Regions from separate parts of the Homo sapiens genome. Here all the other regions are linked to region 2. The links come from fine-mapping of genetic effects on plasma protein levels. A gene starts in region 2. Each other region holds a variant in brackets. All regions are shown on one strand. Distances are between the middles of the regions. Region 1 overlaps MMP10 (matrix metallopeptidase 10). Region 2 holds the start of MMP10 (matrix metallopeptidase 10). Region 3 has its middle 5.0 kb from the start of MMP8. Region 4 holds the start of MMP3 (matrix metallopeptidase 3).

What was found. PIP is the posterior inclusion probability: the model's chance that the variant is causal. The UK Biobank Pharma Proteomics Project read protein levels with antibody pairs (Olink). The fine-mapping took linkage between variants from a reference panel, not from the people measured, so its PIPs are less certain.
Region 1: its variant is fine-mapped to the plasma level of the MMP10 protein (UK Biobank, PIP above 0.99).
Region 3: its variant is fine-mapped to the plasma level of the MMP10 protein (UK Biobank, PIP above 0.99).
Region 4: its variant is fine-mapped to the plasma level of the MMP10 protein (UK Biobank, PIP above 0.99).

Annotation. Positions count from the first base shown.
Region 1 is chr11:102,766,849-102,774,832 of GRCh38, reverse strand. MMP10 (matrix metallopeptidase 10) reads left to right here. Exons shown (of 10, transcript NM_002425.3): 8 at 1,827-1,986; 9 at 2,718-2,821; 10 at 3,940-4,331. The coding sequence ends at 4,040. It also overlaps the pseudogene LOC100421658. Among named protein-coding and RNA genes, the nearest start is that of MMP10, 9.8 kb to the left of the region's middle. The variant T/G (reference allele first, on the strand shown) is at 4,759.
Region 2 is chr11:102,779,896-102,787,659 of GRCh38, reverse strand. It overlaps MMP10 (matrix metallopeptidase 10), which reads left to right and starts at 7,032. Exons shown (of 10, transcript NM_002425.3): 1 at 7,032-7,173. The coding sequence starts at 7,069. It also overlaps the pseudogene WTAPP1.
Region 3 is chr11:102,725,957-102,733,940 of GRCh38, reverse strand. No RefSeq gene overlaps it. Among named protein-coding and RNA genes, the nearest start is that of MMP8, 5.0 kb to the right of the region's middle. RefSeq lists silencers at 396-445, 566-615. The variant G/T (reference allele first, on the strand shown) is at 4,069.
Region 4 is chr11:102,837,384-102,843,618 of GRCh38, reverse strand. It overlaps MMP3 (matrix metallopeptidase 3), which reads left to right and starts at 10. Exons shown (of 10, transcript NM_002422.5): 1 at 10-177; 2 at 703-947; 3 at 1,040-1,188; 4 at 1,340-1,465; 5 at 3,026-3,190; 6 at 3,367-3,511; 7 at 4,376-4,509; 8 at 4,909-5,068; 9 at 6,218-6,235. The coding sequence starts at 73. The variant G/A (reference allele first, on the strand shown) is at 1,304.

The sequences.
Region 1 (7,984 bases), 13 kb after region 2:
TGAACCCATCTTATTAGATGAGGAGAAAAGCCCTGTGTTATAAAACTTTAATCGGTAAGATGTAGTATCAGTGCAGGGAGAGATAAATTAACTAATGGAGATATTCAGGTATAGAGGCTTCTTTATCAGACTTTTAAACTACTGTTTCAATTTGTTTTATTGGTAATATGCTATTAGAGTTTCTATTACTTCTTGAGTCAGTTTTGTTAACATGTTTTTCTAAAAATTTGCCAATTTTGTCTGTTTTCAAATCCATCAGAAAAAGTTTTTGGAAAATTATTTTGTTGTAATTTGAATTATTGCTGAAGTTTTGTTTTCTTTTTCATTCTTAATACTGAATCCTTTTGCCTTTCTCTTTTTTCTTCATCAATCTCATAATATATGTAATAATTTTACTGATCTTTTCAAAGGACTGACTTTTGGCTTTATTTACTCTCTATATTATATTTTGATTTCCCGTTTAATTAGTTTCTGTTCATATCTTTATTGTTGCCTTAATTTTTGTTTACTTTGAATTGATCCTGTTATTATTGTTATAGCTTAAGTTTGATACTTACCTTATTAACTTGTAACTTTTTTCTTTTCTAATACAAGCATTTATACCTATAAATAACCATTTCTTCTGTTTCATCCAGCAAATTTCGATATGCAGTATTTTCATTTTGTTCAATTTTAATTCTTTAATTTCTCATTTTTATTTTTTCCCTAGACTCATAGGTGATAATGGAATATTTTTAAATGTCAAGCTTTATGGAGATTTTAAAAATATTTATTTCTGGCAATCTCACTTATGTGAAGATCAAATGAATGTGAAATTGCAGTAGAAATTGTAAAGGATTACATAACTCTAACGTATTGTTATCAAGTAATGTATCTCACATTTACATATCACTTGCACTGTGTCAGACGCCATTCTCATTGGTGGAGGTCAGGACTGAAAAGGGCTCATATTCTAGAAGGGGCAGCAGAGATGAAGCCTTTGGCAGCCTACATATGACAAGTGCTGGGACTGAGAGAAGGAAGGGTGCCATGGGAGCACCTGACTCATACCCAGGACTCAGCAAAGATCCCTTAGGGGAGGTGATGTTAGGATGGGTCTTAAAGTTCTCTATTGTTGTGCAGAGATGGGCTGGGTGTACAGAAAGTAGAAAGGTCTTTAAGAAAGAAGAAATTGTTTTTACCAAGTAAGAGCATATCTGGAACTGCTCAGACAGATACAAGTCATTCGGTTCAGACGAAGCAAGAGAGATAAACAACAGATGGACATTTTAGATTAGTGAATCTGGCAGTGAGTGCGAAGAAGGAATTCAGGCTTGGGGTCTGGGAGAGTGATGTAACAAAGTAAATGCAGAGAGATTGATGGGATTTTATTGTCCTAACTCACTAGAATTTGAATGAATTCCGATAGTGTTCACAAGAAGCACAGATTGGAATTGGTGACTGTGAAATATCTCAAAGGAAGTGTCCAATAAGCAACTGATCTATTGGTATGAAACTTAAGAGAGAGAGGTCTAGGTGAGAAATTCAGGTTAAAAGTTTACCAACAATTATAAGAAATAACTAAAACTGATCTATAAATAAACTATAACATATAGATACAAATATATAAGACACAGAAAGGGCAGTGAATCAGAGTTATCTACTCATTTATTCATTCATTCATTCACTCGCTCATTCAGGGAGTATTTATTAAGGACTGGCTGTGAACTGGACATTATTAGGTTGGAATTAAAACCAAGCCTTCCTCTTTACCACAACAATGCACTATAATTATTTTTAAAATCAATGGCTTCAAGTAAAATGTCTTGGATTTATTTTTTCAATAGGAAATGAGTTCTGGGCCATCAGAGGAAATGAGGTACAAGCAGGTTATCCAAGAGGCATCCATACCCTGGGTTTTCCTCCAACCATAAGGAAAATTGATGCAGCTGTTTCTGACAAGGAAAAGAAGAAAACATACTTCTTTGCAGCGGACAAATACTGGAGGTGAGATGCAAGAGAAATGACTTTCTATGAAGCCTGATTAAGAAAATTATTTTCTTTCTTTAAGGATATTTCCCTACCCTACACCCACCCTCTAACTTTCTCTAACTTCAAAATTTATGATTATGAGGAAGACAGCTTATTGTTCTACCTTCCGGATACAAAGGCCTCTCAGAATGGTGATCACTGGGCCATATACTCAGACACTAAAAGACATCAGGAGAGGCCAGCTGAGGTCCAAAGGCATTCACCTCTTATTCCATTTCCAGTCACCATGTGGCTGCCATAGGAAGCCCAGGTGTGGCAGGCTTTGGAGACAGGATCTACAGGGTCCCAGTGTGACTGAGAACCAGAGGTTTATTTTTAGCTAAGTGATTTAATTAATTTTGCATTATGAATTCATTATGTCTACACAGTCTTTATGTATTTATAGTAGACACAGGGAAATTTGGTTTCTGTGTGTCCAGGCTTAGAAAATTTACCTCAGACATATGTATGGAACCTCTGTAAAATGGCATAATGTTCCTGTTTCTGGAAAATATTGTTTTATGTGTTAAACTTGTAAGCCCAGGAAAGTAACCTATTCTTGTAGCTCTAAAAATGTTTAACACTTTTTTACACAACTTAAAAAGTTTGTCTAGGATTCCACACTGGAAAATTAACATCACATTATACTATTGTGTGTAATGGGACTACTGCACATCATTGAACTGTATTTCTTTCATTTGGTTTAGATTTGATGAAAATAGCCAGTCCATGGAGCAAGGCTTCCCTAGACTAATAGCTGATGACTTTCCAGGAGTTGAGCCTAAGGTTGATGCTGTATTACAGGCATTTGGTAAGAAGACCCTTATTTCATTGTCATGCAGGAATCTCCAGGCATTTTTATGATTTCAAAATAAAGTGCAGAATCAAAACAGTTTTTAAATCATTCAGTCTGATATCTTTTTTACTCCAAATTCCTGAAAATCTTAACTTTCCAATTTATGCAAAGTGGGTTTAAATTTGTGTGTGTGTGTGTGTGTGTGTGTGTGTGTTTTCCTGAATAACTTCCTAGTCTCTGTTTCATATCCGCACATAAAATCAAAGGATACTTCCTCACACAGAAGCCATTATCTTTCAGGTCACTATGTTGGTATAAAAATACAATCTGTGTGAGCCAGGCTTACTGATGGCTGGTTGTCATTCTACTCTATCCCATCCTGTTGTCCCTTTTCTTCTATCCCACCCCAGGGGAGCCTTGTCTGGGCTTCTGTTGCAGTCTGCGATTGCCTGCATTAGTCATTTGTAAATAAAATACTAGTCCTCCCATATGCTCAAAATAGGTCAAATGTGATTCCTGGTAATGGGCAAATAGGAAAGCAAAACTTGTTCTTGATTACTCTGAAGGAATTTTGGAGGGAGCTGCCAGTGCTTGACAATCCAATGGTCATGAGGCTGATGATCTTGTTACTAAAATGACTTAACCATGATGGATGCAAAGCAGGAAATGGACCTCTGGCTCATTTATCATTTGTCTGATTCTCTTGGGTCTAGTTGTCTCCCAAACTGTAATTTAGAACCTAGCAGAAGAGGGGAGGTTGGAAAGAAAGTAAAACAAGGTTTTAAAATATTATAGAATTTTATCTCTTTAGAACCAGTATGACGTAATGTTTTAGAGCACTTCCTTTGGAGTCAGATGAGATGGAGTCCTCCCTCCTTCCTTCCTTACAGATGCTACCTTGTTAAAATTACAAAACCGTCTTAATTTTTAGTTTTGTTCTCATTAATAACACATCACAGTTTTTTGTAAGGGTAATTGAGATAAAGCATGTAAAGCACTTAGCTCAGTGCTTGGCATAGAGTAATCACTTAATAAATGCCCTCCATTATTAACTTGTACTTAATCTAAGTTATATGTGTTGCAAAATGACATATTTGAAGATGTCTCATCATTTTCCTTATCTATATTTACAGGATTTTTCTACTTCTTCAGTGGATCATCACAGTTTGAGTTTGACCCCAATGCCAGGATGGTGACACACATATTAAAGAGTAACAGCTGGTTACATTGCTAGGCGAGATAGGGGGAAGACAGATATGGGTGTTTTTAATAAATCTAATAATTATTCATCTAATGTATTATGAGCCAAAATGGTTAATTTTTCCTGCATGTTCTGTGACTGAAGAAGATGAGCCTTGCAGATATCTGCATGTGTCATGAAGAATGTTTCTGGAATTCTTCACTTGCTTTTGAATTGCACTGAACAGAATTAAGAAATACTCATGTGCAATAGGTGAGAGAATGTATTTTCATAGATGTGTTATTACTTCCTCAATAAAAAGTTTTATTTTGGGCCTGTTCCTTACTTTCTAGAACAATTCATGTTCAATACCCTGATCATACTGGGGACTGATTATTTGACAGATAGTCTGCCAGTAGGTGTGGTAGGAACACACACTCTATAAATTAGTCATGTGGCTGTCACATACCCTCTCCTATTCTCTGCACCAACAGGATCTTTCTTTTCATCTCACAGATATTGTAAGTGTTCCTTACACACCTAACAAAGAAAGAGGTAAATCAACAGTTGTCCTGTATCTAGGCAGGATCAAAACAAAATGGAGAAATGGAACTCTAGAATGTTAGAGCCTGGGAACCTGCATATTATTTAATAGACTTTCCAATTTTACAGGTGGGGAAATAAAACTAGTTTGGAGTCCACTCACCTCTTGTTTTAACCCAAATCTTTCTTCAGTGGGATTCCTTTCTTGCTCTAGAGACTAAATTTCTCA[T/G]CTCCCCCTCACCCTCACCCTCCTGTTAGAATACTCTCTTGCTACCATTTTGTACATGGAAACCCCTGAGTGATAACAGTGCATGTGCACATGCCAATTTTGTGACAGATTTACCATCACGAAGTTACATGCTTACACCATACTGACAACACTATAGAAACTTGTTCCTTCTTTTATTGACTAATTTTAATGCCAGACTTTGTCATAGTTGCAAAGTATGAAACAGTGAAGAAAATACATTTAACTCAATTTCATTGAGTTTTGTCTGGTGAGAGAAAGAAATCAAATGAAAGAACATAAATTAATGTATAACTACAAATTATAAAGCTGTTATTAGAGAAACGACAAAGCTGTAAAGAAGAGTACTGTTGGAGGAAGGGTTATCTGTTAAAGTTTGGTTATTAGAGAAAGTCTCTCTGGGAAAATAATGTTAAAAACAAAGCATCTAAATCCAAATGGCCAGGTGGGTGAATGGGTAGGAGGATTTAGACTACTCTAAGGAAAGAAAATGCAAATTAGTGTTGAGGCCCAGTGGGTTTAAAAAAATAAAAGTCCTTGGCATGTTCAAGGAACTGAAAGATGAGTGCCTATTGGCATGTTGGAGAGTAGGGGTGGAATAAGATATTAGACAGGTAGACACAATCAAATCATCCAATGTCTTTACAGTATACTAAAGAGTTGTATTTCACTTTTAGTGCATTGTAGATTCATCGAGTGAGTCTTAAACAGATAAGTTATGCCAGCCATTATATTTTTGAATGATTACTTTAGCTGGAGAGAGTTGGAAGGAAGTGACGACAAAAGTTGGAACAGGTTAAAAATGACAGGGAAGGGTGGTAGGGACAGGGGACCTCTGGGTAGATTGAGAGACATGACTGGATTTTTTTTATTTTTATTTTTATTTTATTTTTGGCCCTGTCACCCAGGCTGGAGTGCAGTGGTGCAACAACCACAGCTCACTGAAGCCTTGATCTCCCGGGCTTAGGAAATCCTCCCACCTCAGCCTCCTGAGTAGCTGGGACTGCAGGTGTGCACCACCACTCCCAACTAATTTTTGTACTTTTGGTAGAGACAGGCTTTTGCCATGTTGCCCAGGATGATTGGGAACTCCAGGGCTCAAGCAATCCATCTACCTCAACCTCCCAATGTGCTGGGACTACAGGTTGAGCCACCATACCCAGCCCTGATATATATTTCAACATCATTCAGATTTCATGATAAACTAGATAGAGTTCTGAGAAAAAAGGAAGGTATTAAGAATAATTCCTAGATTACCGGCTTGAACAAATTCTTGGATCACAGCAGCTTCAACAGAGTCAGGGGAAGGCTGAAAGAGAAGCAGTTTTGTGGGAGAAAGTTAAGATTCAGTAGGAATCACCTCACCTTTTAAATATAGAAATTCTTGTAAGTTAACCAACTAAAGGCATTAGTAGGCCATTAGATGGAGGAATCTGGAGCTCAAAACAAAGTAGATAAAACTGTGGGTGTTTGGCGGCATCAGTCAAGCCATGGGAATAGGTAAGTTTATATGGGAAGATTGCAGAGATAAAAGAAGATGGTTCAGGACTGAACCTTGTAAAATGCAGTATCACTCAGACCAGGCCAGGATATGCTGTGGTAATGAGCACTTCCCGATTTTCAGTGGCTTAGAACTAAAAGTGCATCGTAGTACTCCACTGGGGTCTCTACTCCAAGTTGTCCTCACTTCAAGACCCGGGCTGATGGAACGGGCACCACGTTGAACGCCAGCCTTCACTGCGGCGGAGGGAAAGAGTTATTGGTAAATTTCGCGCTGACTCCTAGAAGTCTGTGTGGATACAATAAACATCATTCTGCCCATACTTCATTGGCCAAAGAAAATTACATTGCCTCATCTGACACTAAAGATAGTCAAATAATATACTGTCACACGCCTAGGAGGAGAATCAGAAATATTTAATAGAGAACACTAATCATAAACACAAAGGGCTTCCTCACAAAAACAAAAAAAAAGTAACATGTGTACCCGGGTTGCCGCCGAGGCTCGCGCCTGCGCAGTGAGCATCCCGCCCTTCGGCTGCTGGGAGCCTCCCAGAGCCCAGGAGCGGCAGGGACCAGACGCTGGCTTTGGGGCTGCCCAACAGCCCAGCGGCTAACGACACCCGCGACGGGGGACAGGTTGATTTGGTTAAACAACTCCACTACCCATTGATTTTCTCAAAGATATTTTGCGAAGACGTCCAGGAGGACAGATTCTTAAGGCCTTTTTAATGGACATTTGGAACAGGCAGAGGCAGACACTGCCTTCTAGATGCGGTTTTAAAGCAGCTACGGTGAATGATGGGGTCAGATCTCCGGGTGTACAACACGGTTTTCAGCCCGGACGACTGGCGCGGCATTCAGAAATGGCAAGAAGTAAGACAAAGTATGAGCCTTTGAAGGTTGGAAGATTTGGAATTGAGTTTAAGTCTGGCTACCATAGAGATGTTCCTTGTATCTTTAGTGGTGACTGGATTGGGATGTTCGAGCCTCATCAAACACTTTTTGGCCCACATGAGTGAGACCAGTGTTGGAATGTCAAAGATGACAGCATTTAAATTCGTGAACTTTTGGACCAATTTCTGCCATTTGCTGGCATTTTTGGAAGCACCAAGGAAACATTCATAAATCTCAATTTTCCAGAAACATTTTTTCCTTTTCCTTTTCGCCTGCATCCTCGACAGCTTAGTAGTAAACACTACAGTAAGCAGAAGGTTCTCCAGCTCTCCGTCTTTTAGGGCAGATGTAGACCCAGTGCTGCTCTTTCTAAAAAGTGTGCAGGACGTCTCCTTATAATGTCCGAGAGGCTGGTGGAATGGAGAAACCGGTATTTAGAGTGACTTCAAGGGCACTCTATTTAGACGGCACTGAAACGTGAACGTCTGAATTCTATAAAGATCCTGGGAACTGCACTAAGTAACAATTGTGAAAGGACTCCAAGCAATGGCATCAACTGTATAACATACCATGCTGGTATTAGAGCCTCTCTTCAGTGAGTTGTCCCAGATTGCAGGGATTTATGCAGTTAGCCATGATTGGGTCAGTTTTAGAAGACAAGAGTACTGAAGATGTACAAAAGCCATCTTGGTTGGTGTGTAATGGTGTGGGTGGCCAAGGGATTTGCAGTAATCTTCAGTCTTTAGTGGATGGATTGAAATTTGTCCCAATCATTGGAATAGCCATGTCTTTGTCAAGCAAAGATGGTGAA
Region 2 (7,764 bases):
CATGTATATACATACACATCCATATCCATATACATATATATACATATGTATGTACACATGCATACATATATCTCTCCATTTATATACACACATATACTATATATACATATACATATGTATATACAAATCATACTTATCATATGTATGTACAAATAATATAAAACATGCATAATATGTATATGTTATAATATGTATACAAAAATCATAAAAAACATACATATATGTATGTGTGTGTGTATATATATATGTATGTGTATATATGGAGACAGAAATCCTCCTTCAAGGGGACCTAGTCTCTCTCTCTCTCCCTCTCTCTATCTCTCTCTCTCTCTCTCACACACACACACACACACACACATCTTAGTAACTGTGATGCCACTACATACCAAGGATTACATATGTCTTTTAAATTATCCTCATAAAGGTACCTATGGCCATCCACCAGGGTAACCGTGCACTGGGGAAGAAGAGTACTCAGATTTGGCAAGGACAGTTGGATACCAGATCTGAACTGAGCTGGTATCAGAGGTCCCAACATGGTATTAAGGCCTTCCAGTTTAGAAAGGAGGTATATGAGGGAAAGTGATAAATAGGGTTCTGACTCAAGGTCATCTCACAGTGGGCCCAGCGGGCCCACAGACCATCTTGTGGTTGTTCCCTGACTTCTGGAATAAGATCTTTATGGTAGGAAGGGCCAACTAGTAGCCCCTGAAACTGCTCCTCCTAAACTCTGGCCAAAATAGTAAACCAAAAGCAGCAAAAAACCAATGTCACATCCTGGGAGGATTGCACAGACTGGTTACACTATCAGAGTTTTAAAAGCAACAAGGAGGGTAATCCTCTCACAGCCTCACTCAATGAATCCTTGGAGCCCTTGCATAAACCCAATACATCATGACGGTGGCCTTACCTAGTGGGTAACTACCTAGCAGGTAACTTACCTAGTGGGTAATTATCATCACAGCTACTATTTCAGACATGATTTCTTTACTAGAGCAAATTAACACAGCCTCAGAAACATGATACAGAGTGATTCAAGAGGAGTGTTTAGAGATTTCCCCTGCTGTCTTTGAGCCCACAAATGCACTAGAAAGTAGGGGTTTTGCTTGTTTGGGTTTTGTTTGGGTTTTAAACGAGGCTCTAGCCTTCCAGTTTGAATCCTTTTAGAGAATTTAACCCCAAACACCACTCTAAGGGGAAGTAGTAGCTTTTTTCCAGACCTAGCCCATATGTCTTAAAGGGGCAGTGTTCTGGCCAATGAATTGCAGTGCAAAGCTGCAAGATCTGCTCTGCCACTCAACTCTTTGTGATCTTGACCATTCTGAATCTTCGTTTCCTTTCTATGGTAAAGGGAAAATAATACTAACTTCCAGGATTGTCGTAAAGATAGAAGAGGTTAGATCACCTAGCACAGTGCCTGTCATGTTGAAAATATTCAACAAATGATAATTGCCCTTTTCTTTCGCATATTCCCCTACAGCCAGAATTTTTCTTCAGTGCTTCTTTCCTCCTCACTGAGGGTCTTCCCACCAGAAAAGCCCACTGCACCAAGGAATCAACAGAGCAACTAACCTAACACATTGTTACTGTATCTCCTACACATTGGAAATACAGTAACTGCATTCATAGAGCATTATTTTATGTGTTTAGGTATTGTTAAAATAATAATGGCCATTATAGGACACAACATAAAATTATGCTTTCTAATATTCACAACACTGAAGTCATGATTCTGAGGTCCGTCTAACCCCTACTTTGATACTTTGCCTCCTTCCATTGATAGTATTTTCTATAGCAAGCACAAGTGGCCTGCAATATTTGACTAAACTATCAGAATAGAGAAAAGAATGAATATAAATCTAACAATAAACTGTGTTCCCATTGTGAAGCAGTCAAATTGGAACTAAAAGCATGGGAAAGAGATCAACTTTTCACTTGTTATGAGTCTGTGTAAAAACCAGTAATTTCCAACAAAAGAAGAAGTTGCAAAATACTGAAGTCAATGTCATGCCATGGTTGACGCAGGATTATATGTATAAGTGTACAACCTTAAAATCAGAGGTCTTTGGGTATTGAAAATTAATAGCTAACCAGTTTTCCCAAGAATTGAATAAACTGGAAGTGAGAAACCGTTAGGCATTTCTCAGTCTTAGTTACTGAAATTGCAATGGATTGTAGACCTGCATTCTGTCTGGATCACATCAGTGCAGCACAGGCCAAGAGGAACTTCAAGTGACAGAACAGATAAACATAGATCAAATGAAGTAGCTGTGTTAGCAGGATGATCAGAGAGTTGGGAGAAAAGAACAAAAGCTAAGGAGATAAATTGAAGGCATGTTCAGGGGTGAGTTCAAGAATGAGAGATAGGCCAGGCGCGGTGGCTCATGCCTGTAATCCCAGCACTTTGGGAGGCCGAGGCGGGCGGATCATGAGATCAGGAGATCGAGACCATCCTGGCTAACACGGTGAAACCCTGTCTCTACTAAAAATACAGAAAATTAGCTGGGCGTGGTGGCGGGCGCCTGTAGTCCCAGCTACTCGGGAGGCTGAGGCAGGAGAATGGTGTGAACCCAGGAGGCAGAGCTGGCAGTGAGCTGAAATTGCGCCACTGCGCTCCAGCCTGGGAGACAGAGTGAGACTCTGTCTCAAAAAAAAAAAAAAAAAAAGAATGAGAGATAAAGAACAGTGTCAAGACATAAAAGAAAAAAAGCTGGGGAAGAACCAAGGTCCAAGCCAAGAGGTTGTTTTAAAACTTTTGTTATTACTATTATTTTAAATATATTTGGGGGGTACAAGTGCAGTTTTGTCACATGGATATATTGCATAGTGTTGAAGTCTGAGCTTTTAGTGTAACTCTCACTGGAACAGAAGACATTGTGCCCCCATTAGATAATTTCTCATCCCTCTTTTCCCTCCCACCCTCTTGAGTGCCCAGTGTCTATTATTCCACACAGTATATCCATGTGTACACATTATTTAGCTCCCACTTGTAAATCAGAACATGCAGTATTTGACTTTCTGTTTCTAAGTTATTTCACATAACGTAATGACCTCCACTTCCATCCATGTTACTGCTAAAGACATTACGTCATTCTTTTTATGGCTGCATAGTATTCCAAACAGTATGAGGATTTCTCAAAGACCAAAAAAATAGAACTACCATTCAACCCAGCAATCCCACTACTGGATATCCACCCAAAGGAAAAGAAATCATTATGTCAAAAAGATACCTGTACTTGTATGTTAATCGCAGCACTATTCACAATAGCAAAGATATGGAATGAAGCCAAGAAGTTTTTGATAAACATCCAAGTTGTAGTCATGAAGGTTTCTTCTGGCAGTTCTGAATAATCTCTTCCCACTTGTTAGCTTTTGATCGTGAGCTTATTATTCAATTTTTCTAATCTCAACTTTGTTGGGTTGTTCTGAAGTTTAAAAATAACTCACATTTAAGAACTGACTACAGTGGAAGCTCAATACCAGGCGTTTCACCTTTCTTTAAGTATGAGCTCTGTATGCTTCCTTGCCTGACCCTATACATACTTCAGTAGGTTTAACAAGTAATGAATTATATAAAGACAAACATAGGACTCACCTGCTCCAGGGCATTAATTTCTACCAGGTGTCATGGTTTAATGCAGGACAAGTTTAAACACTAACATCATTTCTGTGAGGCATGTGCTACCCTATAGGCTCCCAATTATAGTCGTAGCTATTACTACAATGTAAACTTTCATTGTATCATTACCACATAATAAAATCCATTAACAGGATGTGTCAACACTAATAAAGTTATGACTCAAGCGAAAATGGGCATCTCACAGCTTGTCAAATCAGGGCCTAGGGGCATTGTCACAGATTTGTCAGGCCAACAAGCTTTGTCTGTTAAAGGTGTTGGAGTGAAATAAGAAGAGATTTGTTCCCCAGCATAAAGCATACAAAATAACTTTGTGAGTGTGGTTATATCCACCCCATTTTACAGATGACAAAATAATGGCCTGAATTAATTACACACAGTCATGTGTGACTTAACAATGGGGACACATTCTAAGAAACATGTCCTTAGGCAATTTATCCATTGTGCAAACACCATGGATTAAACTTACACAAACCTCTATGGTACAGCCTACTACATGCCTAGACTATGTGGTATAGCCTTTTAAAAATTTCTTGGGGAAAGTTATCCTCCCATCTCAGCCTTCCAAGTAGCTGAGAGTAGAGGTGTCAGCCACCATGCCCAGCAAGCCTATTACTCCTAGGCTACAAACCTATACAGCATGAAATTCTACTGAATACTGGAGGCAATTGTAACATAATAATAAATATTACTGTATCTACACATATTTTAACATTAAAAAATACAATAAAAAGATGGTATTAAAGATAAAAAATGGTACAACTATATAGGGCACTAACCAGGAATGAAGCTTGCCAGACTGGAAGTTGCTCTAAGTGAGTCAGTGAGTGAGTGGTGAGTGAATCTGTACACTATGTAGACTTTATGAACATTGTATGCCTAGACTACACTAAATTTATAAAAGCATTTTTCTTTCATCAATATAAATTAACCTTAGCTTACTGTAGTAACTTTTTTACTTTATAAACTTTTTAATTTAAAACTTTTTTTGACTCTTTTGTAATAACACTTAGGTTAAACACAAACGTTTCACAGAGGTACAAAAATATTTTTTTCTTGATATCCTTATCCTATAAGCTTTCTACTATCTTTAATTTTTTTTATTTTTTAAACTATTTTTTGAGAATGAAGACACAAAACACGAATTAGCCCAGGCCTACACAGGATCAGGATCATCAATATCACTGTTTTCTACCTTCACATCAAGTTCCACTAGAAGGTCTTTCAGGGCAGTAACGCTGATGCAGCTGTCGTTTCCTATGATAATAATGCCTGCATAGGGCAGTAACCATGGAATGCCTTCTGAAGGACCTGCCTGAAGCAGTTTTACAGTTAACTTTTAAAAAAAAGGTACACTCTAAAATAAATGATAAAATGTATAGTAAATGCATAAACAGTCATTTATCACTATTATCAAGAATTATGTACTGTACACAATTGCATGTGCTAGACTTTCGTATGGCAGCACAGTAGGTTTGCTTACACCAGCATCATCACAAACACATGGGTAATGTATTGTACTATGACATTATGTTGGCTACAATGACAATAGCTGATGGGTGCTTATCAGCTCTGTATTAGTTTGTTCTTGCATTGCTATCAAAAATACCTGAGACTGGGTAACTTATAAAGAAAAGAGATTTAATTGGTTCACGGTTCTGCAGGCTATATGAGAACCATGGTGGCACCTTCTTCTGGGGAGGCCTCAGGAAACTTACAATCATGGCGGAAGGCAAAAGAGGAGCCTGCACTTTACATGGCCAGAGCAGGAGAAGAAAGAGAGGGGCTAGGTGCTACACACTTTTAAACATCCAGATCTCATGATAACTCACTCACTCACTATGACAAGAACATCACCGATGGGATGGTGCTAAATGGGCATGAGAAATCCGCCCCCGTGATCCAATCACCTCCCACCAGGCTTCACCTCCAACACTGGGAATGACAGTTCGACATGAGATTTGGGCAGGGACACAGATCCAAACCATATCAAGCTCCATTATAATCATATGGGACCACCATCATATATGTGGTCCATTGTTGACTGAAACATTATACAGTGCCTGACTGTACTTGCTCAATGTCCAGCTGACTTTATTTGAGTCTAGTTGTCAGTCCTTCTCCCTCTGATATTCAAGCTGATGTCACCACACTGTAGAGCAAACTCTTTGGCAACAGTAAGTCACAAGTTGACTTGGCTGGCTCAGTGTATATCCCAGTTTCTCTCCAACTCTGGCTTGGAAGTCTCAGAGCCTCTTGGTTCCTGGAAGTCTCACCTGTCCAGGCTACCTTAAGTAGGGTGGGGATGGTGGGCGATACTGAAAAGATCATTCCTACACACTTATTATTTTAATCTCTCATCACTTTGCAATTATGTACTTCAGACATGGTAGAGTTAATTTATCTTTAGTGAGAGAAAAATATAGTTCTTTACTATAAGAATTTCAGGGTTCTTTATATTAACAGGTTAATTTGACAAAACAGTTATTGCAGACTTACTGTGTTACTGCGTAAAAAGCACTTTATTTGGCTGAGAAAACAAGAAAGAAAATACTATTTGTGGGCAGGGGTGGATCGTTAGACATGTGAAAGAAAGGGAGGATTTGAAATCATTTCCCATTACAGATCTCAATCCATCTCCTCCTTTGTACCTTAAGAGGAGAAAGAAAGGGGGAAAAGAATTTTTAAAAGCAAAGAAGAGGAAGAGGGTAGGAGGACCATTTCAGTCTAACATGCAATTTAATTTTTTCCATTTAACAAGTTTTATGGAGCAGTTACTTTGAACATAATTATACACTGGGAAATGGAGAATGAGTGAACACCAAAGCTTCTCTCTTTGGATTCTTTTCTCTACATGCTCCATGTCCTTCTCACAATACCCCTACTCCACGGCCAGTAAATCCATCTGAAAATCAATAATAGCTATTGTAAACAAGGACTCAAGAAGTGAAATATTTGTTTTAATATCTTTGTAAATAACAACTCCCACATTTAGACCACGACTATATTTGGAATTTATTTCCGTTGACCTACTTAATTCTTACCTGCTTATATTTAAGTTTAAAACATAATCTTCTTAAAAGAAAATTGCACTGATTTTAAAATGTCAAAACATTTGGCATTTTACCAAGCTTGTCAGCTCTCTTTAAGTAAATACAGAGACGTGAATTATCTAGCCAATTCTTTTTCGTCTTTACAAACACAGAAATCATTTCCTGGGGATTAATCATTCTTTCAAGTTTAGAAAGTTGAAGGAAAATACTGATGTAGGCTGTATCACCATTACATTAAATGTTTGTGAACATTCAGACTTAAAAAACACATGCATGAATCATACTGTTGGTGATCTCAGCATTGTCTCTGTATAAAAGAAAGGCCACTAGGGGGTAGAGCTAGAAGCCCAGTAGACAAAGAAGGTAAGGGCAGTGAGAATGATGCATCTTGCATTCCTTGTGCTGTTGTGTCTGCCAGTCTGCTCTGCCTATCCTCTGAGTGGGGCAGCAAAAGAGGAGGACTCCAACAAGGATCTTGCCCAGGTAATTAACGGTGGCATCTATTGCAGCTACTGGCCAGCTCAATTGTGTCTACTTGGTCTTCCAATACAAAGCAGAATGATTAGACTAGAGATCACTTTGTTAGAAAACTGTAGCATCAGAGAATAATTAACAGGCTGGAGGTGGAAATTATTTTTATGTTAACAGAGAAGAAAAGAAAGGTTCAGAAAGGGAATATAACTGCTCAAGGTTACAATAAAATAGTAGCAGTATATTTGTGGCTAAGTGAAAAGAACATATGGAGAATATATGAAACTCCTCTGGCTTTAGAATTTATTTAGTTAAAATTATTGGGGAGGGGAGCATGCTAAGTTTGATCTTTAAATCATATCAGGTAATAGTTTTCATATTTTTACTTGTCATATTTGGACAAAAGAGTTTACCACACTTCAGTCTTAAACCAGGTCTATAATAACAATGTAAGTAGAAAAGGTTAGTATTCTAACTTTTCACAAAACTATGTTAAAAGAGGGTTTCTTTAAAAACTAACAAAAATAATGCTAGACTTGAATTTTCAATCCCCAATTCCTTACTTGACTAGCAAACTAACATTGCAATAAAATTTAAAAATTT
Region 3 (7,984 bases), 54 kb after region 2:
TCTAACCCCAGTAGTCCCACTTGTAAGTATTCATTCTGACTGTGATCCCCAGGAGACTTGTAGGGCAGCCAATACAGAACTATTTGTGAGAGCGGGAAGCTAGCCACCGCCTGGATGGCCATTGTTGGTGAACTGACACTTAGAATGTGATAGCCCTTATCAAGTAAGCTAAAACTGCCACCCACAACCTGGCATTAAGATCTGTTAACAGAGGACAAAATAATGTGCTTAGGAACATTGTGACCACTGTGGAGTTTCTCATTCTGCATTCTCACCTAAAGCAAACTATTCATTTTAATGAGCTTTGGCCAAGTCTTTAATGTCCAGTTCTCCCACTAACCTACCTAGTTCAAAACCTGGGCTCATCCTTACTAAATGAGATAAATGGGATCTATTTGTTTTACATTCTTATTTCGAAGAAGACTGTTGATCTGACCGAACAGTTCACCCTCCGAATACCCCAGTGGACTTTGGCGCCCTCTGCTGGTTTTACAGGGGGCATGATGACCACTAGCATGGCTAAGAGTGACAGGTCTCAGCCATCCGTGACTTCATTGAAGGCCACTGGTTGCGTCTGCTATACACCAGCTTACTCTGGGAGCATTAAGCCATAGAAAAATATCTGGATGGAGACATTTCAAAATGTTAACATTGGTTACCTCTAGAAGAGGGGACTGAAGTAGGGGGAAAGGGGGTTAGAAAACTTCACATTTACTTACCGTACTTCTGAAAGTTTGGAATTTTTTTTTTAATAAGCATGTATTTTTGTATTACTAGACTATTTAAAAATAAGTGATTTTTAAAATAAAATAAATCGTTTGAACAACACTTTCTATATTGCTTTTCGTGCATTACCTCCTTAAAGCCCACGGCTTTGAAATAAGAACGTAAAACAATATAGCAATATAGAAAGTGCTCCTATCCTGTGAGGCTTTTTTTTATATTTAATTGCCAGAGAACTGTAATTTTTATCTGTTATTTTGCACTCTGTGTTAAACATTTTCTACACATCCATATTTAATCTTCACAACATTCCTATGATGTCAGGGCTATTGTTACCACCATTTTACACGCAAGGAATTAAAACTTAGGGATGTGAAGTGAACTGTGTCTAGGGTCCCACAGTAATAAGTGGCCAATTAGGGATGTGCAATTAAGACAGAGAGATGAAGGAACTTGTGCAAGGTCAAGCAAATGATAGAGTGGAGTCAAACCCAGGTCTTCGGATTTCCATTCCCCATGCTAAAGAGAAACAGGCTGTCTGTGAGTACCTCGGGCTTGTCACTTCAGGTTCCTCTGATGTTTGGTCCTGATGTATGAGGCAACCACATCTGTAGAATTTGGAGGAAGAAAGAGTCAGAAAGTTCCCATAATGACCTTAATGTGACATTTAAACTAAAGAAGCTACTCAGGCAGAAGGTCAACTCCAGTAGAAGACTTTGTGGAGACTGAACAGAAAGAGCCTTGGAATTAAACCAAACTTGGATTCCCAAATTCTGCCACACATTACACATCTGCCAGTGTGTGATCTCAGGTAATTCACTTAACCTTTCTGATCCTCAGTTTCTGTATTGCTTTTAAAAGACGTAATACCTAAGAAATTTACATAAAAGTGACTTTGCAAAAGCCTTTATGACAGTACCTCACTTCTAATGAGTATTCAGTAAATACTCACATATTCTTGGCATGGAAAGTCAAAATGGAGAACAGGGTGGGTGCAGGTTATCCTGGAGTTATAGGGCATGGTCTCCTAAAGGGCTTTTCAAATCACATGCAGACCACAGATCCTGAAGTGCCCTTCCCTGTGCAGTCAGTCTACACATTTACTGACTACCTCCATCTCTTCTCATTGAGAATTATTGCCTGTAACAGAAAGATCAATGGTCCCAAAAATGCCCACATCCTGACCCGTGAACATGTTAGCTTACATGGCAAAAGAGGTTTCACAGGTGTGATTTGGGTTAAGGACCTTGAAATGGGAGATTAGCATTATCTCAGTGGGTCCAATCAAATCACCTGAGTCCTCACAAGTGGAGACCCTCCCCCAACTGTGATCAGGGAGAGACAAGAAGATGGAATAAGGGTTAGAGAGAAGTGATATTGCTGGTTTTGAAGATGGCAGAGGTGGAAATACAGGCCAAGGGATGCAATAGCCTCTAGAAGCTGGAAACAACACAGAAACTGATTCTCCTCTATAGCTCCCAGAAGGAACACAGCACTGCTAACATATTGATTTTAGCCCAGTGAGACCCATACCAGACTTCTGACCTGCAGAATCGTAAGGCAATGAATTTATCTTGTTTTGAGCCATTGGACGTGTGGTTATATGTTACAGCAGCTGCGGAAAACTAATCCACTGCCCCTGACAAGCCAATGTCACCAAAGGGCATATGTGGTGTCTTTCTGATATTTTAGGTTAAAAAATAAATTCAGGTTGAGAACCATTGATCAAGAGGAGTGAGAACAGAATCTAGTGGGGACTATATAGATGTGAGACAGTTTATTGAGATGAATTCTCACAGACTCCAACAGGCGTATGTGGGTGACAGCTGGTTGGGCTCCAAGGGGGATGGGAGCCAGATGTGTGGTGTGAGGAGCAGGTGTGTGATGTGAGGAGGAGCAGGTGTGTGGTGTGAGGATTGGGTGTGTGGTGTGAGGAGGAGCAGGTGTGTGGTGTGAGGAGTGGGTGTGTGGTGTGAGGAGGAGCAGGTGTGTGGTGTGAGGAGTGGGTGCGTGGTGTGAAGAGGAGCAGGTGTGCGGTGTGAGGAGTGGGTGCGTGGTGTGAGGAGCGGGTGTGTGGTGTGAGGAGTGGGTGTGTGGTGTGAGGAGGAGCAGGTGTGTGGTGTGAGGAGTGGGTGTGTGGTGTGAGGAGAAGCAGGTGTGTGGTGTGAGAAAGAGCCGGTGTGTGGTGTGAGAAGGAGCGGGTTTGTGGTGTGAGGAGCGGTTGTGTGGTGTGAGGAGTGGATGTGTGGTGTGAGGAGGAGCGGGTGTGTGGTGTGAGGAGTGAGTGGTGTGAGGAGTGGGTGTGTGGTGTGAAGAGGAGCAGGTGTGTGGTGTGAGGATTGGGTGTGTAGTGTGAGGAAGAGCAGGTGTGTGGTGTGAGGATTGGGTGTGTAGTGTGAGGAAGAGCAGGTGTGTGGTGTGAGTAGTAGGTGTGTGGTGTGAGGAGGAGCGGGTGTGTGGTTTGAAGGAGTAGAGGCACTGACTGGGCTTCCAAGAAGTTTGACAGTGAGGGAAAGGAAACAGGATGGTAACTCAAGTGATTAATAGGGTAGAAAGAAGTCTGTTGTTTGGTTTTATTTTGTTTTACTAGAGAAACCATGTAGGCAAACAGGAAGCAGCCAGTGAGGGAAAGGAAATAGCGGGGGAATGTGTAAGGAGAATAGTTCTGGTGTGGAGATACAGAAAGAGTCCCATGGACACACTAAGAAATTGAATATTTTGGTGGTAAAAATGAGAGAAAACGAGGGCATTTACTTAAAGTGGGAAGTAATACCTTGCTATAGCTAGACATTGTTAGAAAATCAAGAATGGAGAAGATTTAGAAAAGACAGTGCCTCAGGAAAAATGAAAAATGAGGCATTCCAGCCACACAGCTGGATTGATTTAGTAGAAAAGAGAGTTTTGGCAAAATCCACTTCGCAGTTTCCTGCCTCTACATACACAGAGCGGCCTGGAATGGAAATGTTTACTTTTCTGCCATCTGTTCTCGTGGGTCTGTCAAACTAGTTTCTGGACAGTCGTTGACTCTCAATGGGTCATTTTCTCCATTCTTTCTTATCCTCAACACCCTCTAGTTGGGAGGACAATAGATACAGGGGCAGAAATGGAAATGTTTGGGGCTAATCAAAACCATAAGGATAAGATCCTCCATGCTCACTCTAGCTACTCTCTCACTTGCCTGGACCATGGCGGCTGCTCAGCAGGCCTTTTAATCAGCCTCATCTGTGGGTTGAATTCACTACCACGGCTTCTCTAAGTCTCCACTTCCTTCAGCTCCAGCCTTAGCCTTGATTCCATCTGTCATCCTCAAGAGAACTCTTTGACTCTCAAGACAACTCTGTTTTT[G/T]TTTTTTTTGTTTTTTTTTTTTTTGAGACAGAGTTTCGCTCTTGTCGCCCAGGCTGGAGTGCAATGGCACGATCTCGGCTCACCACAACCTCTGCCTCCCGGGTTCCAGCAATTCTCCTGACTCAGCCTCCCAAGTAACTGGGATTACATGCACGTGCCACCATGCCCAGCTTATTTTGTATTTTCAGTAGAGACGAGGTTCCTCCATGTTGGTCAGGCTGGTCTCGAACTCCCAGCCTCCGGTGATCTGCCTGCCTCAGCCTCCCAAAGTGCTGGGATTGCAGACGTGAGCCACCGCACCCGGCCTTAAGGCAACTTTTATTTTATCTGTGTGTATCTGTGATGCGAATTGCTGCTCCTTGGAGATGTGTGGTGTGATGACCCAGGTTCCCTCCTGTCTTCTTCAACCTCATTTCTTCACCATCCATCCCCACACCAAGAGTAAGACCCATGACCACCCGCTAGGGCCAGGTCCTCACGACCTTTCACTTAAACTCTTACTCCACCTTTTAATTGTTCTTCTTATTTATAACCTCTCTTCAGTCCAGTCTATCCTAGATACTATGGCCCGGTTAGTTTTATTAAGTCAGCATAGATTGTTACATGGCTCAGAAACAAACAATGTCTGCTCATTGCTGGCCTTTTGATGTTTAATTCCTGCCCCTCCACTATCTGGTTCTAGCCTACCATTCCAAGCTGCTTCTCTTTATATGCTCTATGCTGATTCCCCCAGACCCTTGTTATTCTTCACTTACAATCCAAGATTTCTTACCACAATACCTTTGCTTTTTGCTTCTAATCCCACCCTCATTTAACTTAATTTCAATGCCAAAATTCAATCCACCTTTCAAAGTTTATCTCAGTGTCCACTTCCCCTACAAAGACTTTGTGGATCTCCCCAATAGAATATGATTTTTCCTTTTTTAAAATCTTAAAACATGACTCTTTACTTCTCTTATTGTATATTCTCCATCCTCTCTTACAATAGAGATTCTCAACTCATCCTCATTGTTACCTGGGATGCTTTCTAAACTTGTGTATACCTGGGCCCCACCCCAGAGATTCTGATTCAGTAGCTGGAGTGGAGCTCAGTCCATTCTGGCTGCCAAATAAGATATCATAGACTGAGTGGCTTATAAACAACAGAAATACATTATTTCTCACAGTTCTGGAGGACGGAAGTCAGATCAGCCTGCTAACATGGTTAGGTTCTGGTGAGGGCCCTCTTCTGGGCTGCAGACTGCCAACTTTTCATTGGATCCTCACTTGGTGGAAAGACAGAAAGAGAGTTCTCTGGGGTCTCTTTTATAAGGGCACTAATCCCACTCATGAGGCCTCACCTCCTTAAGGCCCCACCTCCTAATACCGTCACACTGGGAGTTAGGATTTCAACATGTAAATTTGGGGTTGGGGGACACAACATTTAGTTCATAAAAGAAGCCTACTTGTATGTTTAATATAGATTCTGATGTAGTGCCAAGACTGAGAATAATCACTTTTAAAAATTTTTTCCTCATTGAGAGAACAAAGGAGATTTTAGGAAGAGTCAATGAAAAGGTAAATTTGAATCATATCTCTGAATCTGTTTTCTTCTTTAAAATGGGGATAATAACTCCCACTTCTCTGGGTTGTTATGAAGCTTAAGGAAGGTAATAGATGCTGCATATCTAAGACTTAGCACAGTGATTAATCCATAATGACTTGTGAGATCTGAGTGTATACATTTATACTCTGTGCAAAGGATGTGAGTCACACACATATGTTCCCTGGCTGAACTTGAACACTGGCTACTAAAGGAAGCTCCATGGAAGTTACTTCACTTGGTGGCTTAACTTAGAAGCACTTCTCTTTCTGGAAAAGAAGAAATTTTCAGCATTTCTAACTCATTCACAGAACGGACGCATGAACTAATGTGGCTATAATTTCACCACATTCATAATACAAAGAGAACAGCACAGTGAAGGGTTTACACAGACTTTTTCCATGTATGATCTCATCTAATACCCTTGATGCCCTATGAGGGAGATGTTAATGCACTAGTTTCACAGGTGTGGAAATTGAACCTCAGAAGAACTTAGATTTGCCAAAAGTTGCATAAGTGGGAAGTGGCAGGACTGTAATTTGAACCCAGTAAGTTTAATTTCCACCCAAATGCTCTTTACCTTTCACCACAACTGGCCCTAACAATTGTTCTGTTAACTTGATCAGGGTATATGGACATCCATTCTGATCATGAGAGTTCAGAAAGGCATGAAGCTGAGGACATTTTGCCTTGGCTTATGTGAATCAAATGAGCCACGGCTTCACTGGGTATAATTCTGTGCTTAGCGGACGCTGTTCCTTCTACTGGATCACATTCCCCATTGGCAACTCCTACTCATCATTCAAGATTCAGGCACATGTGCTCACCCCAGCTGGTTCAACTCATCCTTTATTTTATAACTAAAAAACAAATAGACTATATCTATGCAATCTGTGTCATCTCCTCGGGCCTAGAAAGCAAAACTGAACTATAAAAATACACCTGCTATGTTGCTGTAGAACCCACATCTATATCCTTATCCTTATAAGAATATCCTTATCCTTATGAGAATAGGCTGCTGCCGAAGGGGCAGGAGGGAGGCTAGTAATAGAGAGGCAGAAAGAGCCTACATTGCCTTGTGAGTTTTCTGGGCAAACTAAATTTCTTTCTTCTTCTTAACTTGCCCTGAAACTCATGTTATAATGAACAATACCTTCATTTTTAAAACTTTGTTGGCTTGTTTGTTTTTTCTAGCAAGATATCTACTCAACAGGCGAACAACTCCTGTTCGCACTGAAGTGTAAATGACTGATTTGATTTTTGGGGGAGAGAGCCTGAGAGAACTCAGTCCCAGGGACCAGAAGCAGGTGAGGCACAGACACCACGGAGGTAGACAGTGGTCAGGTGTGGAGAAAGGATTCAGAAGGCACAAGCTGGAGCCCTGAAAGCAAATGCAGTATAGCCTTCTCCACCACTGCACCAGGGCTGGGCCTGTTGGGGGAATCCAGACCCAACCGTTCAATTTTTTAACATAGCATTTACCCAAACACCAAAAACTAAGTTTACCGAAGTTTTAGATTCTCAACTAAATCACTTGCTGTTATGTTCAGAAGAAAGTACATTTATAAACCTTGTAAGCAAGCCATTGCATCAAAATAACTCAACATAGAGTTAGACCAATGTTAAGGCATTTTCGTGGAGGAAAAAGCATTTTTTCACCAAAGACCTAATGTAAAGAAAGCCACATTAAGCCATGAACTCAAGGAGGATGAACATGACCGTGATCTTTGAACAATTTGGCAGGAAGCTGTCACATTTATATTAATACAAAGAATGGGTTGCTACATCTCTGCATGTCTACATTCTACCTCTTCATGATCCGGTTCAAATTCCACCTCCCTCATGAAACCTTCCTTGATTTCACTCCCTCCACACCACTGCTGTTTCCTCCAAACACCCACAGCATTTTATCCAAACCTCTATTAATTTATCTCCAATACTCTAGCACCCATCACAGCATGTGGCATGTAGTAGATGACAGGAAATGTTTACTGAATGAATGTAGGAATATACATCATTAACATTAATCTGCTGTCCAGATATGTTCTAACCCAAGACACCTTTCTTTGGATCATTTTCAAAGTTCCTAAGTGACCTCAGGAAAGATCAGAACTCCTTATCATAGCATCTCAAATACACTCTTTACATATTAATACATGCTATGTATCATACATGTAGACACATGCATTTATACACAAGAATACCTGCCTTTACCAAATATGTATGCATATATGTAAATGAGTATTCACAAAGACTGTGTATGATAACAAACTACATGCATGTGGACTCAGAATAAGTGGGACCAGGTTACATGATTTGAAAAGCATGCCCAGG
Region 4 (6,235 bases), 57 kb before region 2:
GTTGGACCTACAAGGAGGCAGGCAAGACAGCAAGGCATAGAGACAACATAGAGCTAAGTAAAGCCAGTGGAAATGAAGAGTCTTCCAATCCTACTGTTGCTGTGCGTGGCAGTTTGCTCAGCCTATCCATTGGATGGAGCTGCAAGGGGTGAGGACACCAGCATGAACCTTGTTCAGGTAATTAACACTAACTGACCTGGCCAGGTGGGGAGCTTCCAGAGTAAGCTGAAACCATTCTGTGTGTCTTAAAACCCACATAGAATGCTTGAGCTTACTGTGTAGGAACAGTTCAAGAATAGAGAGTTATAGAGTGTTGGAAGTGGAAAAGGTCTCATTATCACACCATTTGGGCTTCTCCTCTTATGTAGGAAGAAACAAAGGCCAGAAATATTAGGTGTTTTCTTAAGATCACACAACACCATAGCAGTAGCAGCACTGGGGCTTAAGGCACATGAGTAACAAGTGGAGAGTGGATGAACCATATCTTGCTTTGGAACAGCTTCAGTTTTTTTTTTAATGCAACGTAATTTTAGCTAAATATTTGTGTTGCTAGTATCATATTATAAAATTTGCCATTATTTCAGCAAGCTAGAGAAATACTCCAAATAGATTAAGAAGTGAGCAACTGCAAAAACTTACTATAAATAGATAGCTATAGTAAAAATTGTAAGAGTGACCTAAAAACTATACTTATTCTGTTAGAAATATCTAGAAAACTACTACGACCTCAAAAAAGATGTGAAACAGTTTGTTAGGAGAAAGGACAGTGGTCCTGTTGTTAAAAAAATCCGAGAAATGCAGAAGTTCCTTGGATTGGAGGTGACGGGGAAGCTGGACTCCGACACTCTGGAGGTGATGCGCAAGCCCAGGTGTGGAGTTCCTGATGTTGGTCACTTCAGAACCTTTCCTGGCATCCCGAAGTGGAGGAAAACCCACCTTACATACAGGTAATGGTTCAGAGGGGTTTTCACATAAGATTGGAATTTTATAAACTATATCATAGGAGAAAATAGCATCTGCTTCAATTTTTCTCCTACAGGATTGTGAATTATACACCAGATTTGCCAAAAGATGCTGTTGATTCTGCTGTTGAGAAAGCTCTGAAAGTCTGGGAAGAGGTGACTCCACTCACATTCTCCAGGCTGTATGAAGGAGAGGCTGATATAATGATCTCTTTTGCAGTTAGAGGTAAAAAAAAAAAAAAAAAAAAAAAAGCAAAACAAAACAAAACAAAAAACACATGAAATGTATCCATTCATCTATCTGGTGTTGTTGTACTGGAAAAGGCTCAAAAGGGATCCTT[G/A]TTACATATCTTTCCAATAAATTTTTTTCCTACTAGAACATGGAGACTTTTACCCTTTTGATGGACCTGGAAATGTTTTGGCCCATGCCTATGCCCCTGGGCCAGGGATTAATGGAGATGCCCACTTTGATGATGATGAACAATGGACAAAGGATACAACAGGTTAGTTACACATCTCTCAGAATGATTTTGGCATTAATTTTTTTATATGTAGAAATCTGTTAATAACCAAGAATGCTCAAGAAATGAGATGTTCTGGATTTTCCAGTGGATCAGAGATCAGCAGAATATATTTTTGTTTTAATTATTATTGAAAATATTTTCAGATGCTTTAACAGTTTTCCTATATTGGTAAGCACAATATAGGAAATATCATTAAGTATTTCTTTAATGACTGGATCTTTGTGATCTAGGGGTAACCATTATTAAGAAAAATTTCTCATATCAAAATACAAACATTCAAGGGATAGTATATTGCACTGAATCTACATTAAAATGTGCTCTGGATGTTACTTATGTAATTTCCTCCATTTACTTCTTTACTCTTCAAACCAGAAATAAGAATTAAATTTCAGAAACTGAGATTCTCTTTTTTTTTTTTTTCTGGCTGAGGCATTATTTTAGTACTTTTAGGTTAAAAGAATTTTTATGGGCTTGTTCTGAAGGAAAAGACTAACTCCCAAATACAACGTTCAAACTGTTTAGGTAGAAGAATGTTTCTCAGTTCATAACTGTATGTTTTGGGGAATGACATCCAAAGTTTTCAAAAAAATCAGCTAAAACAATTAACACTACTTCTAAAAAAATAGGAAAACAATTAATACTATGTCTGAGGTTTAACTGGGATTTATAATGAAAATGTAAACCTCTGTAGGACGTACAAATGTGAGTTTAGTCCTGGATAGAATTCTTGATTGGTTGAGTTAACGAATTCTTGTAAAGAAACCTTCCTGCAAACTCTCAAATGAGATTGTTCCTAGCATCACAAGTTACACAAGTAATACTAGCAAAAGTAAGGTAGATTTACTTACTATATTGATCATAATTACCCAATGCCTCCCAATTTTAGCATTATGGGTGTTTTTAAAAATATGAAGGAAAAAATTTTGAATAAAGCCAGTGTTTATGTATTCTAAATCTGTTGTGTGACAAATGCTAGACATGATTGGGCATACTGTGTTTTAAACCAATTTTGCAAATCCTATGACATCTATCATTATTCATGTTTTTAGTCTCAATATGTACTTCATGATGATGAGGCTGAGACATTATCAATTAACATGAATATAGTTTCCTTTAACTGAGACTGCAAATGGCAAATGTAAATATATTAAAACAGTGTTTAGCTTTGCATTGACAAATGAAGGTAAATATCTGATATGCTAAGCAAGTGGGTTCATTCCATTCCTGAGTACAAGAAAAGGGATCTGGTTCTTCTGGAGTTAATATGCTTGTGAGGCTGGGGGTGGGTTTGGGGCCATGGGGGGCAAGTGGATGTAACTGGGAAATCAATCTCAAAGATTGATTACAGGTATGAGTTTTAAAATACACTTAGCTTTCCATTAAGTGTGTAATTAGTCAATTGTTCAATTAACCAACAAACAAGGTGTAAAAAGCCCTGTGTGGTTCCAAGAAGTAAAAACCAATACAATGCACAGCAGACCTGTGTAATGCACATGTATTTAAAAAATAAGTAACTATTGTTCTCAATTTCTTAAATAGGGACCAATTTATTTCTCGTTGCTGCTCATGAAATTGGCCACTCCCTGGGTCTCTTTCACTCAGCCAACACTGAAGCTTTGATGTACCCACTCTATCACTCACTCACAGACCTGACTCGGTTCCGCCTGTCTCAAGATGATATAAATGGCATTCAGTCCCTCTATGGTGAGTGACACTGGGAAAATCAGCCATTGTAGTTTTGCAATGATGGTCTTCAGAAGAGCTTTCAAATGCTACATAAAGTATTTATGATTTAGTTCAAAGCACCGTGAGAATGTTTGGAAAGCATACAAATGGGCATATATTGAAACGTATCACATTTCCCCTAATGTTCCCTTTAGGACCTCCCCCTGACTCCCCTGAGACCCCCCTGGTACCCACGGAACCTGTCCCTCCAGAACCTGGGACGCCAGCCAACTGTGATCCTGCTTTGTCCTTTGATGCTGTCAGCACTCTGAGGGGAGAAATCCTGATCTTTAAAGACAGGTCAGGCTGAAAAATTATATTTTCCTACCATTTTAATCTACAATGTTTAGAAAGGAAAACACGCAGAAACTTGATAGAGATTCTTAGACATTTAAAACAAAAACGTTTCTTCTGAGCTTGGAATCATTTAGATCTGGTGCTGCCTTTTCCCACATTTTCCTAAAATTGTCAGGTTCATTTTTGAAGGCACAGGCTGATCTGGTTCTTAGCTTCTAATTGCTGTTTCCAAATGTCTTAAGTCACAGTTACTTTTCAAAAGGCATGAGTAGATCTTTCGAATAATAATTTTATTTTTACTTCCTTTAAAAATGACATCAGGATCAACATTACATTTAATCAAGTAATTTACTTACTGATGGATCAATATGCACATGACAAACATTCAAAGAGCACAAATGAGAAGCAAATTAAAAATTTTAGTTCCCAGTTCTCCCTGTACTCATCCAGAGTCAAGACTTTTTGTGCATCCTTCCAGAATCTTTCTACACACATACAAGAATATATTTACACAGCACATACACGTATACAAACACGGCCTAGCTTTTGGAAGAGGGTATAGCACACGCACTGTTTTGCATACATTGCAGGTAATTAAAGCTTATGCTGGGCTAATTCATTTGCACGATAGAATAATTTTTCTTTCATAGAAGACATTACTCTGGAAACCTATGACGGGAGACTCACTACAGTCTTCTGAAGAAAAAGGAAAGAAATTTTCTAATGGCAATATACCTGATTTCTATCTGTCATCCAGCCTAGAAGATGAGAGAATGGGGGAAGCTGGGTGAGGCAAGACGGTGAGGAAAATATTCTAAAGGTGAAAGATTGTTTTTCAATTTACATTTCTTTTTACATATATTTTAGGCACTTTTGGCGCAAATCCCTCAGGAAGCTTGAACCTGAATTGCATTTGATCTCTTCATTTTGGCCATCTCTTCCTTCAGGCGTGGATGCCGCATATGAAGTTACTAGCAAGGACCTCGTTTTCATTTTTAAAGGTAATTACTATATCATCATTTGTTTAACTTGCCAAAGTAAACCCTCTCATAAGAAATTGAACAACACTTTAATTTTCCCTACTACAAGTTCTGGCTAATACAGTAGTCAACGGTAATGAAGAAATAACCAGGGCTGATATCATTGTATTTATATTTCATAGATGATAAAAATAAAGACAAGAAGATAAATTACCCAGAGTTGTAAATTCTCTCATTTGACCTTAGTTCATTCATTCAGTCTGCAAATTTTTGTGAAAAGCCCACTGTAAGCTGGTGACTAAATCTAAAATTTGGGCTACTACTTTACCATGAAAATCAAAGATGCTAAAGTGTATTTCTAAAGCGAAAGGGCTTAACTGTTATAATTCAATATGACTCTGAATTATTTATATTTAACAGGAAATCAATTCTGGGCTATCAGAGGAAATGAGGTACGAGCTGGATACCCAAGAGGCATCCACACCCTAGGTTTCCCTCCAACCGTGAGGAAAATCGATGCAGCCATTTCTGATAAGGAAAAGAACAAAACATATTTCTTTGTAGAGGACAAATACTGGAGGTGAGATGCAAGAGAAATGACTTTGTATGGAGCCTAATTAGGGAAATTAGTTTCTTTTACTAAGGAAATCCCCCACCCCAACCTTAGGCCTGCTTCTCTCTTAGTAGGAAGGATGGGACTTCAGACAACTGTGGGAAAGTTCTTACTTTAAAACAGCAGCACCTTAGGCTCTCCTGCTTTCAGTCCCAAGTGCAGTTGGCTGGTGCTTCCCTTGGTGCTGTCACCCCACCTGCCTGGAGCCCCCTCTTCTCTCCTCAACCTATTCAAATCTTGCCCATCCTTCAAGTCCTGGCTCAAGTCTCATCACCTCCATGCAGCTTTCCCTCGTGGACTTTAGACCCATTGGGAAAATGTTCTGAGAACCCAGACCGCAATTTAGCGTTCCCTTCCCATTGTCTTTTAGTTTGGCTCACTGTCTCACTGTGTGTTTGTCACTGTCTCATTGTGTGTTTGTTTTGTCTTCCTAACACTACTATATGATTTTCAAGGGCTACCTCTAACCTCACCCACTTGTCACCTCTACCTGATAATGATGGCTCATTTAAGAGATGATGATCAATAGCAGTCCAGTTTATGGATACAACCCAACACTCACAGACAGGTTGATTCCTGGGTCATTTGGCCAGACTTTGAGACATCGAGGCCGACCATCTGATATCCAGCCAATGGGCTAAAAACACACTTACTGTGCTTTGCTTCTTATCCTAATCCCTTTTCCCAGGAGGCCACCAGAGAAGATTTAGATGTGCAGGGGAGGGGACAGCAGGCATATATGGGCCAATTGTGGTAGGGAATTAAAATTGCATTTTAGATGTTGATTCAATTCACTTTATATATATGTTCACACTTTCATGTCTTTGTGACAGAAAGATGATTAAGGTTCTTTCTGTCCAGGCTTAAGAAATATGATGACAAACAGCATGTGCTACATACAGCAGGATGCGGCCCCTGTTCCGGATGGAGATATGGCTTTCAGAACTCTTTACAGTACCATTAAAGTCACATATTTCTATAGTCCCAAATATGCTTGGCATTTATTTGCAGTATTTATAAAGTTTAGTAAAATTCCACATTAAACCTAACATGATCTAAGATGTTCGGTAACATGGCCTCTATGCAATGCTGAGCTGTTTCTTTTACTTGGTACAGATTTGATGAGAAGAGAAA